Regions from separate parts of the Homo sapiens genome. Here region 1 is linked to region 2. The links come from fine-mapping of genetic effects on gene expression. A gene starts in region 2. The other region holds a variant in brackets. All regions are shown on one strand. Distances are from middle to middle.

Region 1 (15,302 bases), 38 kb before region 2:
TGTGTGACCTATGGATTTGTTTATTTCCTGTCTTCCCCCTGATGGATTGTGAGTTCCATGAGGACAGGGGTAGGTCAGTTAAGGTCACTGTTTTGTCCCCTCTGTGGCAGCCCCAGGCACACAGTTTCTCAATAAATATTTGTTGGTTGAGCCAGGCATGGTGGCTCACAACTACTCGGGAGGCTGAGGCAGGAGAATCGCCTGAACCTGGGAGGCAGAGGTTGTAGTGAGCTGAGATCACGCCGCTGTACTCCAGCCTGGGTGACAGAGTGAGACTCCGTTTCAAAACAAACAAAATATATACATAATATGTTGGTTGAATGAATGAGTGAATGAATGAATGACTGGACTTACTGTCCCCTGACCCTGCTTCCTGCTTGTCCGTCAGTCAAGCCCGACCCTCCAGAAGGCGTGCGCCTAAGCCCCCTCGCTGAGCGCCAGCTACAGGTGCAGTGGGAGCCTCCCGGGTCCTGGCCCTTCCCAGAGATCTTCTCACTGAAGTACTGGATCCGTTACAAGCGTCAGGGAGCTGCGCGCTTCCACCGGGTGAGGAGGATGAGGGGGAGGCTGGAAAGGGTGGTGCCTGGCAGAGGGAATGGTTTTTACCAAGACTAGCAGGTGTGCTGGGCTCTTGCACATAGCTTGCGATTCCGGGTGCATTGAATAAGAGCAGTCCAGCAATCTGATTCCTAGGCCTCTACCGAAAAGGATGGAAAGCAGGGACTTGCACAAGCTGTCGCACACCCGTTTTTGTTGTTATTGTTTTGAGACAGAGTCTCGCTCTGTCGCCCAGGCAGTGACACAATCTCGGCTCACTGCAAACTCCGCCTCCCAGGTTCAAGCGATGCTCCTGCCTCAGCCTCTGGAGTAGCTGGGATTACGGGCACGTGCCACTATGCCCGGCTAATTTTTGTATTTTTAGTAGAGATGGGGTTTCATCATGTTGGCCAGGCTGGTCTCGAACTTCTGATCTCAGGTGATCTGCCTGCCTCGGACTCCCAAAGTGCTGGGATTACAGGCGTGAGCCACCGAATTGTTCACTTTATTGATTGATTGATTGAAACAAGGTCTAGCTCTGTCACCCAGGCTGGAGTGCAGTGGCGCGATCTTGGCTCGCTGAAACCTCCGCCTCCCAGGTTCAAGTGATTCTCCTGCCTCAGCCTCCTGAATAGCTGGGACTACAGGCGCCCACCACGCCCGGCTAATTTCTGTATTTTCAGTAGAGATGGGATTTTGCCATGTTGCCCAGGCTGGTCTCAAACTACGGAGCTTAGGTGATCCACCTGCCTGGGCCTCCCAAAGTGTTGGGACTACAGGTGTGAGGACTTCATCTGGCCAGAATTAGCCATTTTAAAGTGAACAATTCTGGCTGGGCAGGGTGGCTCACACCTGTAATCCCAGCACTTTGAGAGGCCAAGTTGGGAGGATTGCTTGAGTCCAGGAGTTGGAGACCAGCCTGGGTAACATAGTGAGACTCCCATCTCTACAAAAAATTTAAACATTAGTTGGGTGTGGTGACACACACCTGTACCCCCAGTTACAAGAGGCTGAGGTGGGAGGATCACTTGGGCCTGGAAGATTGAGGCTGCAGTGAGCCGTGTTGGCACCACTGCCTTCCAGCCTGGGTAACAGAGAGAGACTCTGTCTCCCAACTTAAATAAATTAAATAAAATAAAAAGCACGGTTAGGCTAGGTGCAGTGGCTCATGCCTGAAATCCCAGCACTTTAGGAGGCCAAGGCAGGCAGATCACTTGAGGTCAGGTGAAACCCCATCTCTATTAAAAATACAAAAATTGGCCTGGCGCGGTGGCTCATGCCTGTAATCCCAGCACTTTGGGAGGCTGAGGCAGGCAGATCACGAGGTCAGGAATTCGAGAACAGCCTGACCAACATGGTGAAATCACAGCTCTACTAAAAATACAAAAATTAGCCGGGTGTGGTGGCGGGCGCCTGTAATCCCAGCTACTCAGGAGGCTGAGGCAGGAGAATGGCTTGAACCCGGGAGGTGGAGGTTGCAGTGAGCTGAGATCATGCCACTGCACTCCAGCCTGGGTGACAGAGTGAGACTCCGTCTCAAAAACAAACAAACAAAAATTAGCCAGGCATGGTGGCGGGCGCCTGTAATCCCAGCTATCTGGGAGGCTGACGTGAGAGGATGGTTTGAGCCTGGAGGCAGAGGTTGCAGTAAGCCAAGATTGCCCCACTGCACTCCAGCCTGGGCAACAGAGTAAGACTGTCTCAAAAAAAAAAAAAAAAAAAAAAAAAGCATGGTTAATATAGTGGGACCAGGGGTAAAGGGAGGTATGGGGTCCTATCCCAGAGGTCCTGGTTTAGTCCCAGGGAGGAGAAAGAAGAGGATTATAGGGATCAGGGATGTCCTGATGAACAAAGACCCTCCTGGGTGAGACATCCACAGGGGCTAGTGTGGTCCAGGAAGGATTCGTAAGAGAGGTGGCTCTGGGGGCCACACAGACAGAGGCCGGGATTGGGAGGAGCCCATGATGCTATTTGGGGTGGGGCCGCACAGCTGGGGCCAGAGTCCTGGACTGGAGCCTGCAGGGGGCAGGGAGGACTGCACGCTCCGTTGTGTGGTTCTGTGCACAGTGGCCCCTCTCCATCTTCTGGTTCTAGTGACCTGACGCTCTCTCTTCTCTCAGGTGGGGCCCATTGAAGCCACGTCCTTCATCCTCAGGGCTGTGCGGCCCCGAGCCAGGTACTACGTCCAAGTGGCGGCTCAGGACCTCACAGACTACGGGGAACTGAGTGACTGGAGTCTCCCCGCCACTGCCACAATGAGCCTGGGCAAGTAGCAAGGGCTTCCCGCTGCCTCCAGACAGCACCTGGGTCCTCGCCACCCTAAGCCCCGGGACACCTGTTGGAGGGCGGATGGGATCTGCCTAGCCTGGGCTGGAGTCCTTGCTTTGCTGCTGCTGAGCTGCCGGGCAACCTCAGATGACCGACTTTTCCCTTTGAGCCTCAGTTTCTCTAGCTGAGAAATGGAGATGTACTACTCTCTCCTTTACCTTTACCTTTACCACAGTGCAGGGCTGACTGAACTGTCACTGTGAGATATTTTTTATTGTTTAATTAGAAAAGAATTGTTGTTGGGCTGGGCGCAGTGGATCGCACCTGTAATCCCAGTCACTGGGAAGCCGACGTGGGAGGGTAGCTTGAGGCCAGGAGCTCGAAACCAGTCCGGGCCACACAGCAAGACCCCATCTCTAAAAAATTAATATAAATATAAAATAAATTAGCCAGGTGTGATGTTGCGCGCCCACAGTCCCAACTACTTGGGAGGCTGAGGTGGGAGGATCACTTGAGTCCAGGAGGTTAAGGCTGCAGTGAGCTGTCGTCACACCACTGCCTTCATGCCTGGGCAACAGAGCAAGACCCTGGTTTTTTTGTTTGTTTGTTTGTTTGTTTTAATCATAGTTGAGGCCGGGTGCGGTGGCTCGCGCCTGTAATCCCGACGCCGAGGCGGGCAGATCACGAGGTCAGGAGTTCGAGACCAGCCTGACCAACATGGTGAAACCCGGTCTCTACTAAAAATACAGAAATTAGCTGGGCATGGTGGCCTGAGCCCGTAACCCCAGCTACTCAGGAGGCTAAGGCAGGAGAATCGCTTGAACCTGGGAGGCGGAGGTTGCAGTGAGCTGAGATTGCACCACTGCACTCCAGCCTGGGCAACAGAGCAAGACTCCGTCTCAAAACAAAAACAAAAAAAATAATAGTTGAAATGAAGACTCCAGCTGGGTATGGTGGCTCACGCCTGTAATCTCAGCACTTTGGGAGGCCAAGGCAGGTGGATCACTTGAGGTCAGGAGTTCAAGACCAGCCTGGCCAACATGGTGAAACCCTGTCTCGACTGAAAATACAAAAATTAGCCAGGCGTGGTGGTGGGTGCCTATAATTCCAGCTACTCGGGAGGCTGAGGCAGGAGAATTGCTTGAACCCGGGAGGCAGAGGTTGCAGTGAACTGAGATCGCGCCATCGCACTCCAGCCTGGGCGATGGGGTGACTAAGACTCCGTCTGAAAAAAATAAGGAAATGAAGACTCCTCTTTTCACTTAGAGGAGATCCAGCGAGGACTTAGCCCTAAACCAAAGGACACAGAAACCACAAATCCCCACTCCCATAGTGTCAGGGCTGGACCAGGGGACGTCATGGGCCTGGGGATGCCAGGGTGGGGTGGCAGGGATTCCGCCTGGAGTGGGACAGTAGAATCCATTCAGGGGCAGGTGCGGTGGCTCACGTCTGTAATCCCAGCACTTTGAGAGGCTGAGGCGGGTGGATCACAAGGTCAGGAGTTCAAGACCAGCCTGGCTAAGATGGTGAAACCCCATCTCTACTAAAAATAATAATACAAAAAATTAGCCAGGCGTGGGTATCCGCCTGTAGTCCCAGCTACTCGGGAGGCTGAGGCAGAAGAATTGCTTGAACCCAGGAGGTGGAGGTTGCAGTGAGCCAAGATCGCGCCACTGCATTCCAGCCTGGGTGACAGAGCGAGACTCGATCTCGGAAAAAAAAAAAAAAAAAAGAATCCATTAAGAATCCATTCAGATTAGCAGTTAGGTTGGTTC[G/A]CCCAGATGTCAGCCTCATTGAGGATAGACACCAATAAGGTATGAGTGGCTCTGGGGAGATTTAACTGAACAGTGGGCAAGGAAGGCAGCCAGGCCCTGAAGGAGAGAGAAACAGCCTTGGGCTTGTCTGTGGGTTCCACCTGGGTCTCCAGTCAAAAGTCACCTCCTCCGAGAAGCCTTCCCTGACTACCCCATCTGTGGCAGGTAGAGTAACACTCCCCAATCCCGCAAAGACATCCATGTCCCAATCTCCAGAGCTCATGAGTATTTTGCCTGATGCAGCCAAAGGAACTTTATAGGAGTGATTACATTAATAATCTCAAAGGTCTTTAAAGATGAAAGATCTTTCATCAAATTAATGAAAATGGGCCGGGCGCAGTGGCTCACGCCTGTAATCCCAACACTTTGTGAGGCCAAGGCAGGAGAATTGCTTGAGGCCAAGAGCTCCAGACCAACCTGGGCAACATAGTGAGACCCCCATCTCTAAAAAAATAAAATAGGCCAGGCATGGTGGCTCATGCCTGTAATTCCAGCACTTTGAGAGGCCGAGGTGGGTGGATCACGAGGTGGGGAGTTCGAGACCAGCCTGACCAATATGGTGAAACCCTGTCTCCACTAAAAAATGCAAAAGTTAGCCAGGCGTTGTGGCACACACCTGTAGCTCCAGCTACTCGGGAGGCTGAGGCAGAAGAATCACTTGAACCCGGGAGGCGGAGGTTGCAGTGAGCCGAGATCGTACCACTGCACTTCAGCCTGGGCAACAGAGCGAGACTGTCTCAAAAAAAAAAATAGTAATAAAATAAAATAAAATAAAAATAAAATAATAAAATAAGTTAGCCAGGTGTGATGTCGCGTGCCCATAGTCCCAGCTAATCAGGAGACTGAGGTGGGAGGATCTCTTGAGCCCAGGAGATCAAGGCTGCAGTGAGCTATGATCTCACCACTGTACTCCAGCCTGGGCAACAGAGCAAGACCCTGTCTCAAAAAAAAAAAAATTAGCCGGGCTCAGTGGCTCACGCCTGTAATCCCAGTACTTTGGGAGGCCCAGGTGGGCAGATCACAAGGTCAGGAGTTCGAGACCAGCCTGGCCAATATGGTGAAACCCTGTCTCTACTAAAATACAAAAAAATATTAGCCAGACATGGTGGCATATGCCTGTAGTCCTAGCTAATCGGGAGGCTGAGGCAGGGGAATCGCTTGAACCTGGGAGGGGGAGGTTGCAGTGAGCCGAGATCGTACCACTGCACCCCAGCCTGGCAACAGAGCGAGACTCCGTCTCAAAAAAAAAAAAAATTAAAAATTAGCTGGGCTTGGTGGCTCACAGCTATAGTTCCAGCTACTTGGGAGGCCAAAGTGGCAGAATCTCTTGAGTCCAGGAGGAAGAGGCTACAGTGAGCTGTGATCACATCTCTGCACTCCAGCCTGGGTAACAGAGAAAGACTCCATTTCAAAAAAAAAAAAAAAAAAAAAGCCAGGCACGGTGGCTCACGCCTGTAATCCAGCACTTTGGGAGGCTGAGGCGGGCAGATCACGAGGTCAGGAGATCAAGACCATCCTGGTGAACACGGTGAAACCCTGTCTCTACTAAAAATACAATTAAAAAAATTAGCTGGGCATGGAGGCAGGCGCCTGTAGTGCCCGCTACTTGGGAGGCTGAGGCAGGAGAATGGCGTGAACCTGGGAGGCGGAGCTTGCAGTGAGCCTTAGATCGTGCCACTGCACTCCAGCCTGGGAGACAGTGAGACTCCTTCTCAAAAAAAAAAAAAGAAAAAACAAGTATTTCTAAAAAATTTAATAGATGCCAGGCACAGTGGCTTACGCTTGTAATCCCAGCACTTTGTGAGGCTGAGGCGGCTGAATTGCTTGAGCTCAGGAGTTTGAGACCAGCCTGGGCAACATAGTGAGACCCCATCTCTACAAAAAATACAAAAGTTAGGCAGGCATGGTGGTACATGCCTGTGGTCCCAGCTACTCTGGAGGCTGAGGCAGGAGGATTGCCTGAGCCCAGGAGGTTGAGGCTTCAATAAGCTATGATTGTGCCACTGCACTCCAGCCTGGGTGAGACAGTGAGACCCCGTCTCAAAAAAAAAAGATTAATAGGGATGGGGTCTCACCATGTTCCTCAGACTAGATTCCAACTCCTAGTCTCAAGCAATCCTCTCACCTTGGCCTCCCAAAGTACTGGAATTACAGGGCTGATGAGCCACCATGCTCAGTCCATTTTTTATTTCTGACCTGTAAAACTATAATAAATGTGTGTCGGGCAGAGGCAGTGGCTCATGTCTATAATCCCAACATTTTGGGAGGCTAAGGTGGGAGGATCACTTGACCCCAGGAGTACTAGACCAGCCATGGCAACATATCAAGACCCTGTCTCTCAAAAAAAAATTTAAAATTTAGCTGGGCATGGTGGCATGCACTTTTAGTCCCAGCCACTTGGGAGGCTGAGGTGGGAGGATCTCTGAGTCTGGGAGCTTGAGGCTGCAGTGACTATGATCATAGAACCGCACTCCACCCTAGGTGAAAAAGCAAGACGTGTCTCAGAAAAAAATATAAATAAATAAAACAAATGCATGTTGTTTTCAGACACTGAGTTGGTGGTCAATTGTTACAACAGCCATAGGCCCCTCAAGCATCACCTACAATTGACCCTTTCCATCACTATCCATGGTCAAAAGATAAAGCTGCAACCTTGGCCAGGTGCAGAGGCTCATGCCTGTAATCCCAGCACTTTGAGAAGCTGAGGCAGGTGAATCACTTGAGCTCAGGAGTTCCAGACCAGCCTGGCCAACATGGTGAAACCCCGTCTCTACTAAAAATACAAAAATTAGCTGGGCGTGGCACACGCCTGTGGCCCCAGTGACTTGGGAGGCTGAGGCAGGAGAGTCACTTGAACTCGGGAGGTGGAGGCTGTGGTGAGCTGAGATCGCGTCACTGCACTCTAGCCTGAGCAACACAGTAAGACTGCATCTCAAAACAAAACAAAACAAAAATGCTGCAACCTATATAGTTCAGAGATCTGAATTGGGTTTTCTTTGCAATTCTGGAATCAGGCAACACCTCATTTCATCAAATCGAATTAGCTACTAAAACACCAGGTGTTTGGTCTAGGTCTTGCTGCCCTCTGCGCAGAAAGCCAATCACCGAGGCAACAAGGATTGCCAGGGAGGAATGCTTTATCCTGCCGCTGCAGTCAATGAGAAGGGGTGGTAAAGTCTCATATGTCTCCCTGACCAACTAAAATTGGGGAGTTTATATAGCTGGGGAATGGGAGAAAACAAATTCAGGGAGGGTGTTAAGGAAGTAATCTTGATGGATGATGGGGTCTGGCCTCTCATTGTCTGGATGTGATGATCTGATGAGTTTCAGTTCCTTGCCTGATGGTCAGTTTCCTGAGGAAGGAACTGAGATGAGACAAATGTAAGTTTCAAGTTTTAAGACTAGGGAGGATCCATTTCTGTGTTTATTCAAATAATCATAAGTATTCGTTTTATGGAACAATTGGACCAGTTTCAGAATGTTTCCATGAGCTGAGCAGACAACATTAGGGGTTCTTTTTCTTTCTTTTTTAAAGTCTGTTAAACCTTCCATTTTTTTTTTTTCCCGAGACAGAGTCTCTCTCTGTCACCCAGGCTGGGGGGCAGTGGCGTGGTCTTGGCTGACTGTAACCTCCGCCTCCTGGATTCAAATGATTCTCTTGCCTCTGCCTCCCAAGTAGCTGGGACTACAGGTGCCCATCATCACACCCGGCTAATTTTTGTATTTTTAGTAGAGATGGGGTTTCCCCATGTTGGCCAGGCTGGTCTTGAACTCCTGACCTCATGATCAACCCGCCTCAGCCTCCCAAAGTGCTGGGATTACAGGAATGAGGCACCATGCCCGGCCAAACCTTCCACTTTTGCAAAGCAGGTTTTATTTATTTATTTTGAGACGGAGTTTCACTCTTGTTGCCCAGGCTGGAGTGCAGTGGTGATCTCAGCTCACTGAAAAAGAGGTTGGTTTTATAGACAGAAAAAGGCTGAGTAAAGCAGAAATAGAAAACAAAAAGTGGATTGGTCTTTTCAAAGTTACTTTTCTTGTCAAGTTTAGAGCAAAGGAGACTATCGTGCTGGCTAAAACAGGCCTGTTCAGGGATTTTTTTTTTTTTTTTTTTTTGAGACAGTCTCGCTCTGTCACCCAGGCTGGAGTGTAGTGGCACAATCTTGGCTCACTGCAGCCTCCACCTCCCGGGTTCAAGCGATTCTCCTGCCTCAGCCTCCCAAGTAGCTGGGACTACAGGCGTGTGCCACCCTGCCCAGCTAATCTTTGTATTTTTAGTAGAGACAGGGTTTCACCATGTTGGCCAGGATGGTCTCAATCTCCTGACCTCGTTATCCACCCGCCTCCCAAAGTGCAGGGATTACAGGCATGAGCCACAGTGCCTGGCCTTTTTTTTTTTTTTTTTGAGACAGAATCTGGTTCTGTTGCCTAGGCTGGAGTGCAGTGGCATGATCTGGGCTCACTGCAATCTCCGCCTCCCAGGTTCAAGCAATTCTCGTGAGTCAGCCTCCCAAGTAGCTGGGATTACAGGCACCCACCACCGCACCCCGCTAATTTTTTGTATTTTAGTGGAAACGGGGTTTCGCCATGTTGGCCAGGCTGGTCTTGAACTCCCGAGCTCAGGTGATCTGCCTGCCTCTGTTCATGGATTTGACTATTCCCTCTCTTTCTCTCTCTCCCTCTCTCTCTCTCTCTCCCCACTTCCTTCCAGTTCTCGATTTCTTGGAAAACCAGAAAAACAACTTAGTTTCAGCTTGGTGTAAAACTTCCGCATGAGGGACTTCATTTTGGTTTAGTCTTTTGGGCCTAGTGCAGGAGCTCAGTCCAAACCCATGGCTTCCTGTAAACTTTATTTAACACCATTCCTTGTCCCATATTATTGTCTTCCTGGTGCCAGGAAAAGGGGTCCCTAGCTGGGTGTGGTGGCTCACACCTGTAATCCCAGCACTTTGGGAGGCTGAGGTGGGTGGATCACCTCTTGAACACCTCAGGAGTTCAAGACCAGCCTGACCAACATGGAGAAACCCCGTCTCTACTAAAAATACAAAATTAGCCGGACGTGGTGGCACATGCTTTTAATCCCAGCTACTTGGGAGGCTGAGGTAGGAGAATAGCTTGAACCTGGGAGACGGAGGTTGCGGTGAGCCGAGATTGTACCATTGCACTCCAGCCCGGGCAACAAGAGCAAAACTCCTCAAAAAAAAAAAAAAAAAAAAAAAAAAAGGAAGGCTACTCAGTTACAAAGTAGGGCGTCCTCAGAAAACAAGAGGAGGAACGCCTTGTCTTTGTTTTAAGGTTTTTATTTTTATTTTATTTATTGATTTATTTTTGAGATGGAGTCTTGCTCTGTCACCCAGGTACAATGGCACGATCTTGGCACGATCTTGGCTCACTGCAACCTCCACCTGCCAGGTTCAAGCGATTCTCCTGCTTCAGTCTCCTGAGTAGTTGGGATTCAGGCATGTACCACTGCGCCCAGCTAATTTTTATATTTTTAGTAGAGACGAGGTTTTACCGTGTTGGCCAGGCTGGCCTTGAACTCCTGAGCTCAAGTGATCCTCCCACCTCGGCCTCCCAAAGTGTTGGGATTACAGGTGTGAGCCACCATGTACAACCGGTTTTTTCTTATATAGGGGTCTTATCTGTGTGAAAGCTATGTCCACGTGTAGGTGGGCTGACCGCGTGACAAAACGTAGTACTTTGTCGACTTAAAGAAAGTTATCCTGGCTGGGTGCAGTGGCTCACACCTGTAATTGTAACACTTTGGTAGGCCGAGGCCGGCAGATCACTTCAGCCCAGGATTTCCAGACCAGCTTGGGCAACATGGCGAAACCCTGTCTCTACAAAAACTGCCAAATATTAGCCAGGTGTGGTGGTACCTATAGTTCCAGCTAACTCGGAAGGCTGAGGTGGGGGATCGCCTGAGCCGGGAAGTGGAGGCCACAGAGAGCCATGATTGCGTTACTGCACTCCAGCCTAGGTGACAGAGCGAGACCCTGTCTCAAAAAGTATACATACATATCCTTGCCATTTTAGTGCCTAAGTACATTACACCATGACTATAACCATATTTTCTTTTTTTTTTTTTGAGATGGAGTTTCACTCTTGTCACCCAGGCTGGAGTGCAATGGCGCCATATCGACTCACCGCAACCTCTGCCTCCCAGGTTCAAGTGATTCTCCTGCCTCAGCCTCCCAAGCAGCTGGGATTACAGGCATGCACCACCATGCCCGGCTAATTTTGTATTTTTAGTAGAGACAAGATTTCTTCATGTTGGTCTGGTTGGTCTTGAACTCTCGACCTGCACCACCGCACCTGGCTAATTTTGCATTTTTAGTAGAGACGGGGTTTCTCCGTGTTGGTCTGATTGGTCTTGAACTCCTGACCTCAGGTGATTCGCCCACGTCGGCCTCCCAAAGTGCTGGGATTACAGGCGTAAGCCACCATGCCCGGTATCTTTTTCTTTTTTTTCTCTTTTTTTTTTTTTTTGAGATGGAGTCTCACTCTGTCGCCCAGGCCACAGGGCAGCGGCACAATCTCGATCTCAGTTCACTGCAACCTCAGCCTCCTGGGTTCATGCAATTCTCCTGCCTCAGCCTCCCAAGTAGCTGGGATTACAGGTTCCCGCCACCACGCCCGGCTAATTTTTGTATTTTTAGTAGAGATGGGGTTCCACCATGGTGGCCATGGTGACCAGGCTGGTCTCGAACTCCTGACCTCAGGTGATCCACCCTCCTTGGCCTCCCAAAGTGCTGGGATTACAGGCATGAGCCACCGCGCCTGGCGACTATAACGATCTTAAAAGCATACATTGCTATGCAATATCAGGACATCTGGACCTTCCATTGTTGTAGTAGTGTGTCCTCCTAGGCATTTGTAAGACGTTTTCTCAATTGTAAACATCTTATGACCCTGGCTCGTGACTGGCAGCGAATGTGCCTTGTTAATTTTAAGATGGAGTTGATTTTTGGCCAGGTGCAGTGGCTCATGCCTGTAATCCCAGCACTTTGGGAGGCAGAGGCGAGCAGATCACCTGAGGTCAGGAGTTCGAGACCTGCCTGGCCAAAATGGTGAAACCCCATCTCTACTAAAACTACAAAAATTAGGCAGGTGTGGTGGTGCGTGCCTGTAATCCCAGCTACTCGGGAGGTTGAGACAGGAGAATCACTTGAATCCTGAGGTGGAGGTTGCAGTGAGCCAAGATCGCACCACTGGAGGCAGAGGTTGCAGTGAGCCAAGATCGCACCACTGCCCGTCAGCCTGGGCAACAGAGCAAGACTCCTCAAAAGATAAATAAATAAACAAACAATTGCCACAGCAACATCAAGAAGTTACCCTATATGGTCTAAAAAAGGGAGGTATGAATAATCCACCCCTTGTTTAGCATATCATCAATAAATCACCATAAACATGGGCAACCACCAGCCCTTGGGGCTGCTTTGTCTGTGAAGTAGCCATTCTTTTATTCATCTACTTTCTAAATAAACTTGTTTTTGCTTTGCACTGTGGACTCGCCCTGAATTCCTTCTTGCACGAGATCCAAGAACCCTCTCCTGGGGTCTGGATCCGGACCCCTTTCCTGGAACAATCTGACACAGAGGAAACGTCCATGAAAGGTGGGGAGGAGGCTGGGGAAGGAGGCTGGGGAAGGAATGGGATGGGAAGTCCTCGTTAAGGGGAAGGCACAGGTGGGCAATGGAGGGACATTTGGGAGACACTGCGTATGTTTAGGAAGTTGGTTTGGAGCCTGATCTTTAAGTCAATGTCTGTGACTCAAGAGTCGTCCAGGGTCCTCTTAAGTCACCCTATGTGTGGCCCCAACCCCATGTGAGAGTTGCGGGCCCAGGAACGATGTGTGGATTCCCAGAGCCCAGAATACAAGGCAGGCGCATAATACATATTTGCTGAATAAAAGAATGAAGAACAAGAGGTCACGTTACAAAATTTTAACGAGCCGCTGCCCGCTTCTAGGGGGCGCAGCGCACTATACAAAATTCTCCAATTCCACATGGCTCCCGGAATCCTTATTTCGCGCTACTCAGGTTGCAACTCCGGAGGGAAGACGCTGGGACTTCCAGCTTGATAGGCGGGGATTGGAACCAATGAAAGAGGTCTGCTGTGTATGCTGCAGCCAATAATAGCGGCCGAAGGAAGTGACGTTTGCGGAAGTAAGGCTTCCGTCGGAAAAGCTCGATAATTACCCAGCCTAACCATTTCTCAGGTGCTTGCGAGGTGATCAGAAGGCAAAGATGTCGGAGCGAAAAGTATTAAACGTAAGTGTTGGGCGACTGGGGCTTTTCAATCGGAGCAGGACATCCCGGAACTCCGGGAGAGGGAGGAGCTTCCTGAGATCTCTTCTTTGGAACCCTTCTTTCCCAGCGGCCTTCCGCGAGATGGGGCTTCCCAGACTCCTCCCTAGACTCCTCCCCATCGCCTTCCGTCGGGGGGGTGGGCCTTCGCTAAGTCTCCCTTCTGGGCTGGGGTGTAGTTAGTCACCTGCGGGGCGTGGCTTGGGCTTTTACCCAATCACCACCAGATAGGGTTTTTTTTCTGGGGGCGGGGCTTCCTTAAATGCTGGCGGCCGTGTTTTGCCCTCTTCTTGAGGGGCGTGGCTCTGAGAAGCCCCGCCCCACTTGGGGACTGTAACCAATCGTGTACTTTGGGTGGGGTGGGGTGGGGTGGCGCGTGTGTGTGTGTGTGTGTGTGTGTGTGTGTGTGTGTGTGTGTGTGTGTGTGTGTGTGTGTGTGTGTGTGTGTGTGTGTGTGTGTGTGTGTGTGTGTGTGTGTGTGTGTGTGTGTGTTTTGTTTTTTTTACTGGGGTCTGGTCATGCAGATAACCTCTGCCTTACAGTGGCCAAGATTTTACTGGGGTCTGGTCATGCAGATAACCTCTGCCTGACAGTGGCCAAGATTCCAGACTCCCAGAAGAAAAGCAGAGGTTCAGTATAAACTATACTGTTGGCACACTTCTGTTTTTTGGTTTTTTGAGATGGAGTTTTGCGCTTGCTTCCCAGGCTGGAGTGCAGTGGCACGTTCTTGGCTCACTGCAGCTTCTGCCTCCTGGGTTCAAGCGATTCTCCTGCCTCAGCCTCCTGAGTAGCTGGGACTGCAGGCGCCCGCCACCATGCCTGGTTAATTTTTTTTGTATTTTAGTAGAGATGAGATTTCACCATGTTGCCCAGGGTGGTTTTGAACTCTTGATCTCAGGCATTCCACCCACCTCATACTCCCAAAGTGCTGGAATTACAGGCGTGAGCCACCGCGCCCGGCCCCACGCAGGTCTTTCTAGGAGAGCAGTCTCAGGCTTGCTGTAGGAACTCCTGGGAAACAGGAGCCCTGGGATACAAAGGGAGTGTGAGTATGGATTATGACAGATACCTCCACTGCACCACTGGAAAATAAAGCACTTTGTGTTTGGAGCACCTACTGGGTGCCAGACACTGCAAAGAGCACTTTATCCCCCTTGCCTCAAGGAATGCGTGCAAAGACTCTTGGAGACAGAGGACAGTGTGCGCATTTCACAGAGGAGTAAACTGAGCCCTGCAGGTTTCAGCTCCTCAGGATTCAGATCCAGGGAGATGACTCTGTAGGAAACGGATGTAGTATCGTGATTGGGAGGCTGAGCTAACAGAGTCCTGGTTTACCCTCTACAGAATTGCTGGGGAGTTGGGACTCCTCGGGGAACTCGGTCTCCTGCCTGAACAACAGAAGTGCTAAGCAAAGCTTAACCTCTACAAAGGGCAGGGCATGATGGCTCACGTGTGTAATACCAGCTCTTTGGGAGGCCAAGGCAGGTGGATCACCTGAGGTCAGGAGTTCGAGACTAGCCTGGCCAACATGGTGAAACCCCATCTCTACTAAAAATACAAAAATTAGCGGGGAGTGGTGGTGGGCGCCTGTAATCCCAGCTACTGTAGAGGCTGAGGCAGGAGAATCGCTTGAACCCAGGAGGCGGAGGTTGCAGTGAGCCAAGATCGCGCCACTGGACTCCAGCCTGGGCAACAAGAGCAAAACTCCGTCTCAGAACAAAAACAAAAACAAACCCTGGCTTTTTAGAGCTTCCCGTGTAGACAGCATTTCATGTGTATTGTCATGACTGGTATTTAGGAGAATTAAATGCGTCCTGTATAACTCCACTAGGAGAGAGTCAGGAAGCTTGTGCCTGGCCTCCCTCTGACTGTACTGAGTCCTGCGAGTCCTCCCTGCCTGTCGCGGAACCTGGGGTGGGCTTGGGGACCCCCGACACAGCTCCCCAGAGCCCCTTCCCTCTGCCATGTCCTGCCCCTGCTTCTGAAAATAACTCCCCCAACGTTTCCTTCCTCCCCTGCAGAAATACTACCCGCCGGACTTTGACCCATCAAAGATCCCCAAACTCAAGCTCCCCAAAGACCGGCAGTACGTGGTGCGGCTGATGGCCCCCTTCAACATGAGGTGAGCACCCCCTGCGTGACCCCACACACCAGTCATGGCTGAAGGACGCAGTGCCTGGCATCCACAGAGGTGACTCGTCCGGTGTTAAGACCAGATCACTGGTCTTAGACATTGTCCTGGCTCAGACATTGACCATTCCAACCCTCCTTCGCCTCACCACTTGGGATTAAGCTTTGGATCTTTTAGAGCCCTCCAGCCAGTGCCTGCCTTGAGATCATGGTGGTTAGTAAACGTGTGTGCAGAGAGGATAGG
Region 2 (8,000 bases):
CAGACACAGAAGGCCACAAAGTGTGTGATCCCATTTCTATGAAATGTCCAGGACAGGCCCATCCACAGAGGCAGGAAGTGGATTTGTGTTTACCAGGAGCTGGGGATTTGGAGAGATGGGGAGTGACAGCTAATTGGGTATGAGGTTTCTTTTGGAGGTGACGAAAATGTTCAGGAATTAGGGGTGATGGTCGCACAACCTTGTGGACACAGGAGAAACCACTGAATTGTACACTCTAAATGGGTGAACTGTAGGATATGTAAGTTATGTTTTTTGTTTTTTTGAGATGGAGTCTCGCTCTGTTGCCCAGGCTGGAGTGCAGTGGCTCAATCTTGGCTCACTGCAACCTCTGCCTCCCGAGTTCAGGTGATTCTCCTGCCTCAGCCTCCCGAGTAGCTGGGATTACAGGTGCCCGCCACCACGCCTGGCTAATTTTTGTATTTTTAGTAGAGACGGGGTTTTACCATGTTGGCCAGGCTGGTCTCGAGCTCCTGACCTCAGGTCATCTGCCCACCTCAGCCTCCCAAAGTGCTGGGATTATAGGTGTGAGTCACTGCACCCAGCCAATGTGAATTGTATCTTTAAAAAAAAAAAAAGCAACAAGGCCGTGTATGGCAGCTCACTCCTGTAATCTCAGCACTTTGGGGGCGCCAAGGTGGGCGGATCACGAGGTCAGGAGTTTGAGAGCACCCTGGCCAACATGGTGGAACACCATCTCTACTAAAAATATAAAAATTAGCTGGGTGTGGTGGCGGGCGTCTGTAATCCCAGTTACTTGGGAGGCTGCGGCAGGAGAATCGCTTGAACCTGGGAGGCGGAGCTTGCGGTGAGCCGAAATTGTGCCACTGCACTTTAGCCTGGGCGACAGAGCAAGACTCGGCCTCAAAAAAAAAAAGCGGCCGGACTCGGTGGCTCACGCCTGTAATCCCAGCACTTTGGGAGGCTGAGGCGGGAGGATCACAAGGTCAGGAGATCGAGACCATCCTGGCTAACAGTGAAACCCCATCTCTACTAAAAATACAAAAAAGTAGCCGGGCATGGTGGCGGGTGCCTGTAGTCCCAGCTACTCGGGAGGCTGAGGCAGGAGAATGGTGTGAACCCGGGAGGCGGAGCTTGCAGTGAGCCGAGATCGCACCACTGCACTCCAGGCCCGGGCAACAAAGTGAGACTCTGCGTAAGAAAAAAAAAAAAGCAAAAAAAAAGCCGGGTTTTGTGGTATGCACCTGTGGTCCTAGCTACCAGGAGGCTGAGATGGGAGGATCATTTGAGCCCAGGATGTTGAATGTGAGGCTGCAGTGAGCTGTGATTGCATCTCCAGCCTGGGCAACAGAGCGAGAGACCCTGTCTCAAAAAAAAAAAAAAAAGGGAGAAAAGAAAAATCCAAATCTCACAAGGTTACGTGGCTGATTCAAGGTCACAGGGGAAGGTGACTGGACCCCTAGCCTGGATCTCTTTCTCTTCTACCTAATCCTCCTGCCTCTCCCTGCCAGCCTCTCCCCACTCCCCTCCTTGGGGTAGGGTCGGGGTGCAGCCCCAGGAGAAGCCAGCTCCAAAGCACAGGAAAGTCAAATGCCGTTTGATTCCGGCCCCGGGGCCTCTAATTGCTATTCCTGACACAGATTGTAATTAGAAGGCCCCTTTCAAATATTTATACCTCAGACATCTAGTTTTATCCGGCAGGGAGACGACTTGGATTTGATGAGATCTGTCAACAGCTCATCCCCGTGGCCCGGAATTGCCTTGCGGCTGACAGAAAGCAGGACAATTACCCGCTGTGCTCCCTGGCCGCCCCCAGGGACGCAGCCTTGTCGCTGATCTGAAAGGGTGGGGGGAAGCGGGGGTGGCCATGCACTTCAGGAGGGAGGAAGGAGTTCAACAGGTCTGTGTTGGGGGACACAGCCAGTGCAGGGAAGGGGAGGAACAGAAGGGTCTAGACGCCTGCATCCTTCAGGGGCTTTGCCTTGTTGGCTCCAGGCCTCAGTTTTCCCATCTGGATAATGGAGCTCATCGTGGAGAGGAGTTGCAGAACCGATTCCATGAAGAGCATTTTGGGAGGCCGAGGCCGGCAGATCACCTGAGGTCAGGAGTTCCAGACCAGCCTGGCCAATGTGGTGAAACCCCATCTCTACTAAAAATATAAAATTATATAAAAATTAGCTGGGCGTGGTGGCAGTAATCCCAGCTACTCAGGAGGCTGAGGCAGGAGAATTGGTTGGACCTGGGAGGTGGAGGTTTCAGTGAGCTGAGATCGCAACACGGCACTCCAGCCTGGAGGACAGAGCAAGGCTCCGTCTCAAAAAAATAAAAAGAGAGACTCCAGTGCCACCCTAGGCCAGGCCCCACGGCGATGTGCAGGCAGAATCAGCTGTGGAGTGGCTCTGAACAAGTCCCTCCCATCTCTGTGCCTCGGTTTCCCCATCCATAAAATGAGGAAGCCAGGTGATAGCTCGGTCCCTCCTGGAATCCTTCCTAGAGCTGTCTGGGATTTCCTGTTAGAAACCACATCTTTCAAATAAGGAAAACCAAGACTCAGGGAGTGACAGACCCTGCCCTCAGCCCCGCCGGGCTGCCAGGAGGCCCCAGTCATAGCAGTGTTGGTTCTGACTTCTGTCTTGTCCTCCAACTGTGCTCTCCAAGCTATGACCTGTGCCTGACCAGGGGGCTGGCCACAAGAGGAGAGAATCTGGGGTCCCATCCTTCCTGACCACCCCTCTCTCACTCCCCTCATTAGGAGGAACTGGGCAAGCCCCCTTATGGGGAAAGAAAAAAAACGGTTCTGCACTGGAAAATTGGCCAGTGGCTCCCTTTTCCTCTCCCACCCCCCAAACCTCTCAGTGCCCTCACCCTCAGACAACGACAGCTGACAACAGGCAGCCAGTTCAGGCCAGACCCCTCTCACTTCTGCCCCTCTTCCCGCCACCGCTCCCCCCCACCCCGCCCCCAGAAGCCACAAAAGGACAGATGCAGAGGACAGGCGCCAGGCACAGATACCATCTCCCTTCCCCAAGCCAGCTGCCCCCAACCCTCCCCCTGCCCGCAATTAGTCCTCTGGGGCGGGAGCGGGGCACAGAGCAGAGCCCTCTTGGGGGAGGGGAAGCCCGATCCGCACCCACCCTTCCTTTGCCCCCCTCTTCCTTCTGCTGCTCCAATATCAATTTCAGCCAGTGACCTCTCCACCAATTTGCACATCCCCACTCTCCCGGTCCGTTTCACCGCCAGACATCGGTTCCATTTCGACCCTCACTGGCGGTCATTCCCACCCCCTCTGCTGGTCAATTTCACCCCTTTTGGCGGTCAAGTGCAGTCCCCCATTTCCCGGGCAATTTCCCCCTCCCCTCCTTCTCCCTCTCCCCTCCCCTCCCCAGCAGTGTCACTCCCAGCTGCTCCCCACCTCCCGCGCTCCGCGCTCGCTGCGGCCAGTCTCGGGCGTCCCGGTCAGTGTCCAGCTGCCGCGGCCTCGGCCCCGGCGACTCCCGCCCCCAGCCCCCCTTCCCTCCGCGGGCAGCGGCTCCCTCCCTCCCCAGAACAGCTGAAGGTCTCAGTCACCTCCGAGGGGAGCGCAGGGGGAGGGGAGGGGCGGGGGACGCGGCGGAGGGGAGGTGGGGGAGCCTTGACGCTGCTGCCCGGGACGCGGCCCGGGGCTGGTGGGAACAGGGGCGTCCTCCTGCGCGCCCCCCTCCCCAGCGTCCCACCTCCCGGCGGCGGCGGGGAAAGTCTCTCCGAAAGCGTGAAGGGGGATTGGAGGAGGTTTTTATTTCCCTTTGTGCGGGTGGCTGGGGCCGGATCGAGGCGGCGGGGGCCGCGGGACTGGGGGCTCCCCGCTGAGCCGAGAGGAGCGCGACAAAGGATGCGTCCCGCCGGGGTCACAGTCTCCGCGGCCCAACTTTGCGCGCGGCGCCCGCGCCCCTGGGGAGCCCGCCCGCTGCGCTGAGAACCCAGGCGTCCGGGCTGGGAGAGGGGCCGGGAGCGTCCGCAGGTGGCGCTGGCCCGGATCTCCCGACCCCAGGAAGGGATCCCGGAGCTTCCTGGAGGCGGCGGGCGGCCGTGTCGCTCCAGGGAACCGCGCTGCCCGCGGAAACTCCGCGCGCCTCCGCGGATGCCCCTCGCCCTAGCCCCCAGCGCGCGGGGTTCGGGGCCCTGCGAGGTCCCCCCTTCCCCCGCGGTGCTTCCCAAGCTGGGCTAAGGCGGGCTTCTCTTCCTCCCTCCTCTGTCGCCTCCTTTTCCTCCCCCTCGTTCACCTTTTCCTTCCCTCTATCCATCCAGAGCCCCGCCAAAGGGCGCACCTGATCTTTCTCATCCTTCCCTGCTCTTCCCTTCCTCTCCACCTCCTCCTCCTCCTTGGGGAAAGGGGCCCGGAGAAGGGCATGTGGGGGCCCCTCTGACAGTGGCCCGATTGGGGTGACAGGCGCCCAAATGGCCAAGTGGCTACGGGACTACCTGAGCTTTGGGGGTCGGAGGCCCCCTCCGCAGCCGCCCACCCCGGACTACACCGAGAGCGACATCCTGAGGGCCTACCGCGCGCAGAAGAACCTGGACTTCGAGGACCCCTATGAGGACGCGGAGAGCCGCTTGGAGCCGGACCCCGCGGGCCCTGGGGACTCCAAGAACCCCGGAGATGCCAAGTATGGTTCTCCCAAGCACCGGCTCATCAAGGTGGAGGCTGCGGATATGGCCAGAGCCAAGGCCCTTCTGGGCGGCCCCGGGGAGGAGGTGCGTGGCTGGGTGGCCTGGGGAGACTGGGTGGAGGGGAGGCTCAGGATGGGCTCTCTGGATCGTGGAGAGCTTATTTTATGTGTGATCACAGGAGGGGACTGGGGCACCAGACAGACCCTTCCCAGTCCTCCAGACCTCCACCTGCTTGGGGAAGTCTGTTCTTTTTATGTATTTATTTATTTTGAGACAGTCTCCCCCTGTCACCCAGGCTGGAGTGCAGTGGTGGGATCTCGGCTCATTGCAACCTCCACCTCCTGGGGTTCAAGCGATTCTCCTGCCTCAGCCTCTCCAGTAGCTGAGATTACAGGTGTGTGCCACCACACCCGGCTAATTTTTGTATTTTCAGTAGAGACTGGTTTCACCATGTTAGCCAGGCTGGACTCAAACTCCTGACCTCAGGTGATCCTCCCGCCTCTGCCTCCCGAAGTGCTGGGATTACAGGTGTGAGTCACTGCGCCCGGTGGATATCTGTCCCTTTTCAATGCATAATGCTGGTTGTCCTTCTGCCTCTCTGACCACCCTGCTTGGTCTCCGGGTCCTCCTCCTCCTCCATGGTCATCCCCTGCAGTCCCCCAGCCCCCTCCCCTCAGCACCCCTTCCTCTTGGAACCTGGTGGGATCTTCCTAAAATAGATCTGAGTGAGTTGCTCCCCTGCTGGGCACCTAAATATCCTCCCGGTGATGCTGCCCTTCCTACCACTATGTTCCCGTTTTACAGAAGCGAAACTGAGGCTCGCAGAACGGTAGTGACTTGGCTAAGGTCTCACGGGGTTCTAGCTTACTAGGATTTGAACCCAGGCCACCGGGTGCAGTAGCTCATGCCTGTAATTCCAGCACTTTGGGAGGTCGAGGTGGGAGGATTGCTTGAGCCCAGGAGTTCGAGACCAGCCCGGGCTAACAGAGTGAGACCTTGTCTCTACAAAAAAAAAATCAAAACATTAGCTAGTTGTGGTGGTGCACACCATAGTCCCAGCTACTCAGGAGGCTGAGGCAGGAGGATCACTTGAGCCTAGAAGGTCAAAGCTGCAGTGAGTCATGATTGCGCCACTGCACTCCAACCTGGGTGACAGAGCAACACCCTGTCTCAAAAAAAAAAAAAAAAAAAAAAAAAAAGGCTGGGTGTGGTGGTTCACACCTGTAATCCCAGCACTTTGGGAGGCCAAGGCAGGTGGATCACCTGAGGTCAGGAGTTCCAGACCAGCCTGGCCAACACAGTGAAACCCCATCTCTACCAAAAATGCAAAAATTAACCAGGCGATGTGGCGTGCGCCTATAATCCCAGCTACTCCTGAGGCTGAGGCAGGAGAATTGCTTGAACCCAGGAGGTGGAGGTTGCAGTGAGCCAACATCGCGCCACTGCACTCCAGCCTGGGTGACAAGAGCGAGACTCTGTCTCAATAAATAAATAAATAAGAAGTAAGACGTTGGTAAGAAGAGCCAGGGACTCGAGGAAACCAGTCAGCCGGGATCAGACTCGGCCTCTTACTTACCAGCTGTGTGTCCCTAAGCAAAACACTTACTGTCTCTGTGCCTTGGCTTCCTTGTCTGGAAAAGGGGAATGGTGTACTTATTACATGTTGGTATTACAAATCAACACAGGTAAATCCTTGACAATAGTGCACGGAGAAGCACTGAAGTGGGCGAAGGAGGGAGGCAGGTGTCTGTGCTGGGGAAATGGGATCAAGACAGAGGGAGACGTGGGAAGCCAGCCGCTGTCTGCGAGCACTTTTGGGTAACAGACTCCCTCTCCAACCCCCAAAAAGAACTCTTGGAGAGGCCAGGCACTGTGGCTCATGCCTGTAATCCCAGCACTTTGAGAGGCTGAAGCGGGCGGATCATCTGAGGTCAGGAGTTGAAGACCAGCCTGGCCAACATGGTGAAACCCTGTCTCTACTAAAAATGCAAAAATTAGCCAGGTTTGGTGGCCGGCACCAGTAATTCCAGCTACTCCAGAGACTGAGGCAGGAGAATTGCTTGATCCCGGGAGTCGGAGGTTGCAGTGAGCCGAGATCACACCACTGCACTGTAGCCTGGGCAACGGAGCAAGACTCCATCTCAAAATAAATAAATAAATAAAACTCAGCTGGGCGCGGTTGCTCACGCCTGTAATCCCAGCACGTTGGGAGCCCGAGGCGGGCAGATCACGAGGTCAGGAGATCGAGACCATCCCGGCTAACACGGTGAAACCCCATCTCTACAAAAAGTTAGCCAGGCATGGTGGCGGGCGCCTGTAGTCCCAGCTACTCGGGAGGCTGAGGCAGGAGAATGACGTGAACCCAGGAGGCAGAGCTTGCAGTGAGCCCAGATCCCGCCACTGCACTCCAGCCTGGGTGACAGAGCGAGACTCCATCTCAAAAAATAAAAATAAAAATAAATAAATAAATAATAAAAAAATAAAAACTCTTGGAGAGGTGTCAGATGGCCCTGTGGGCAGGCAAGAGGTGCAGCGTCAATTAGCAGGGAAGCCCCTCTGAGTCCTTGTCTTCTCCCCTTCCTTCTCTCCGCAGCTGGAAGCCGACACTGAGTATTTAGACCCCTTTGATGCTCAGCCTCATCCTGCACCCCCGGATGATGGGTACATGGAGCCCTACGATGCCCAATGGGTCATGAGTGGTGAGTAGGCACGGCTTGGGGGAAGGTGACAGGGTCCCAGATGGGAGCAGGAGCTGAACAGTGTCCCTGGCCTCCTAGAACTTCCCGGCAGAGGGGTGCAGCTCTATGACACCCCTTATGAGGAACAGGACCCAGAGACAGCAGATGGACCCCCTTCTGGGCAGAAGCCTCGGCAGAGCCGGATGCCCCAGGAAGATGAACGGCCAGCAGATGAGTATGATCAGCCCTGGGAGTGGAAGAAAGACCACATCTCCAGGGCGTTTGCAGGTGCTTCTCAGACCCACACTCTGACATCTGAATGCCCCATCCCTGCATTTCCTCATCTGGTCATGTCTCCTGTTTCAGTTTACAAAGTAGAGTCCAATTACTTGTCACTTTTGTAGTTTGTTAATTCTCACTAGAGTGTGAATGACTGATAGTCCTAAATTCTTTCTTCCAAGACAACCTGCATCTTCCTTGGAAACGCAAACACTTTTTAGAGTGGAATGGAACCTACTTATCCTGCTCAGTGTGGTGTGGGGAGAGGAATATGGCTTGCTTTTAGAATAGGATGTGGGGGTGGCAGGGGCAGCATTTCTTTATTTTATTTTATTTTATTTTATTTTTCTTTCGTTTTTCTTCCAGGCGGAGTCTCACTCTGTCGCCCAGGCTGGAGTGCAGTGGCGTGATCTCGGC

The links. PIP is the estimated chance that this variant, and not a neighbour inherited with it, causes the effect.
Region 1: its variant is fine-mapped to the expression of SHD in whole blood (TOPMed, PIP above 0.99).

The regions. Positions count from the first base shown.
Region 1 is chr19:4,234,279-4,249,580 of GRCh38, forward strand. EBI3 (Epstein-Barr virus induced 3) reads left to right here. Exons shown (of 5, transcript NM_005755.3): 4 at 389-546; 5 at 2,658-3,250. The coding sequence ends at 2,810. YJU2 (YJU2 splicing factor homolog) reads left to right here and starts at 12,802. Exons shown (of 8, transcript NM_018074.6): 1 at 12,802-12,892; 2 at 14,950-15,050. The coding sequence starts at 12,869. RefSeq lists a silencer at 7,820-8,020 and enhancers at 8,199-8,248, 8,399-8,498, 11,862-12,633, 12,392-12,531, 12,872-12,961. The variant G/A (reference allele first, on the strand shown) is at 4,581.
Region 2 is chr19:4,275,651-4,283,650 of GRCh38, forward strand. It overlaps SHD (Src homology 2 domain containing transforming protein D), which reads left to right and starts at 3,616. Exons shown (of 6, transcript NM_020209.4): 1 at 3,616-4,710; 2 at 7,220-7,325; 3 at 7,404-7,592. The coding sequence starts at 4,414.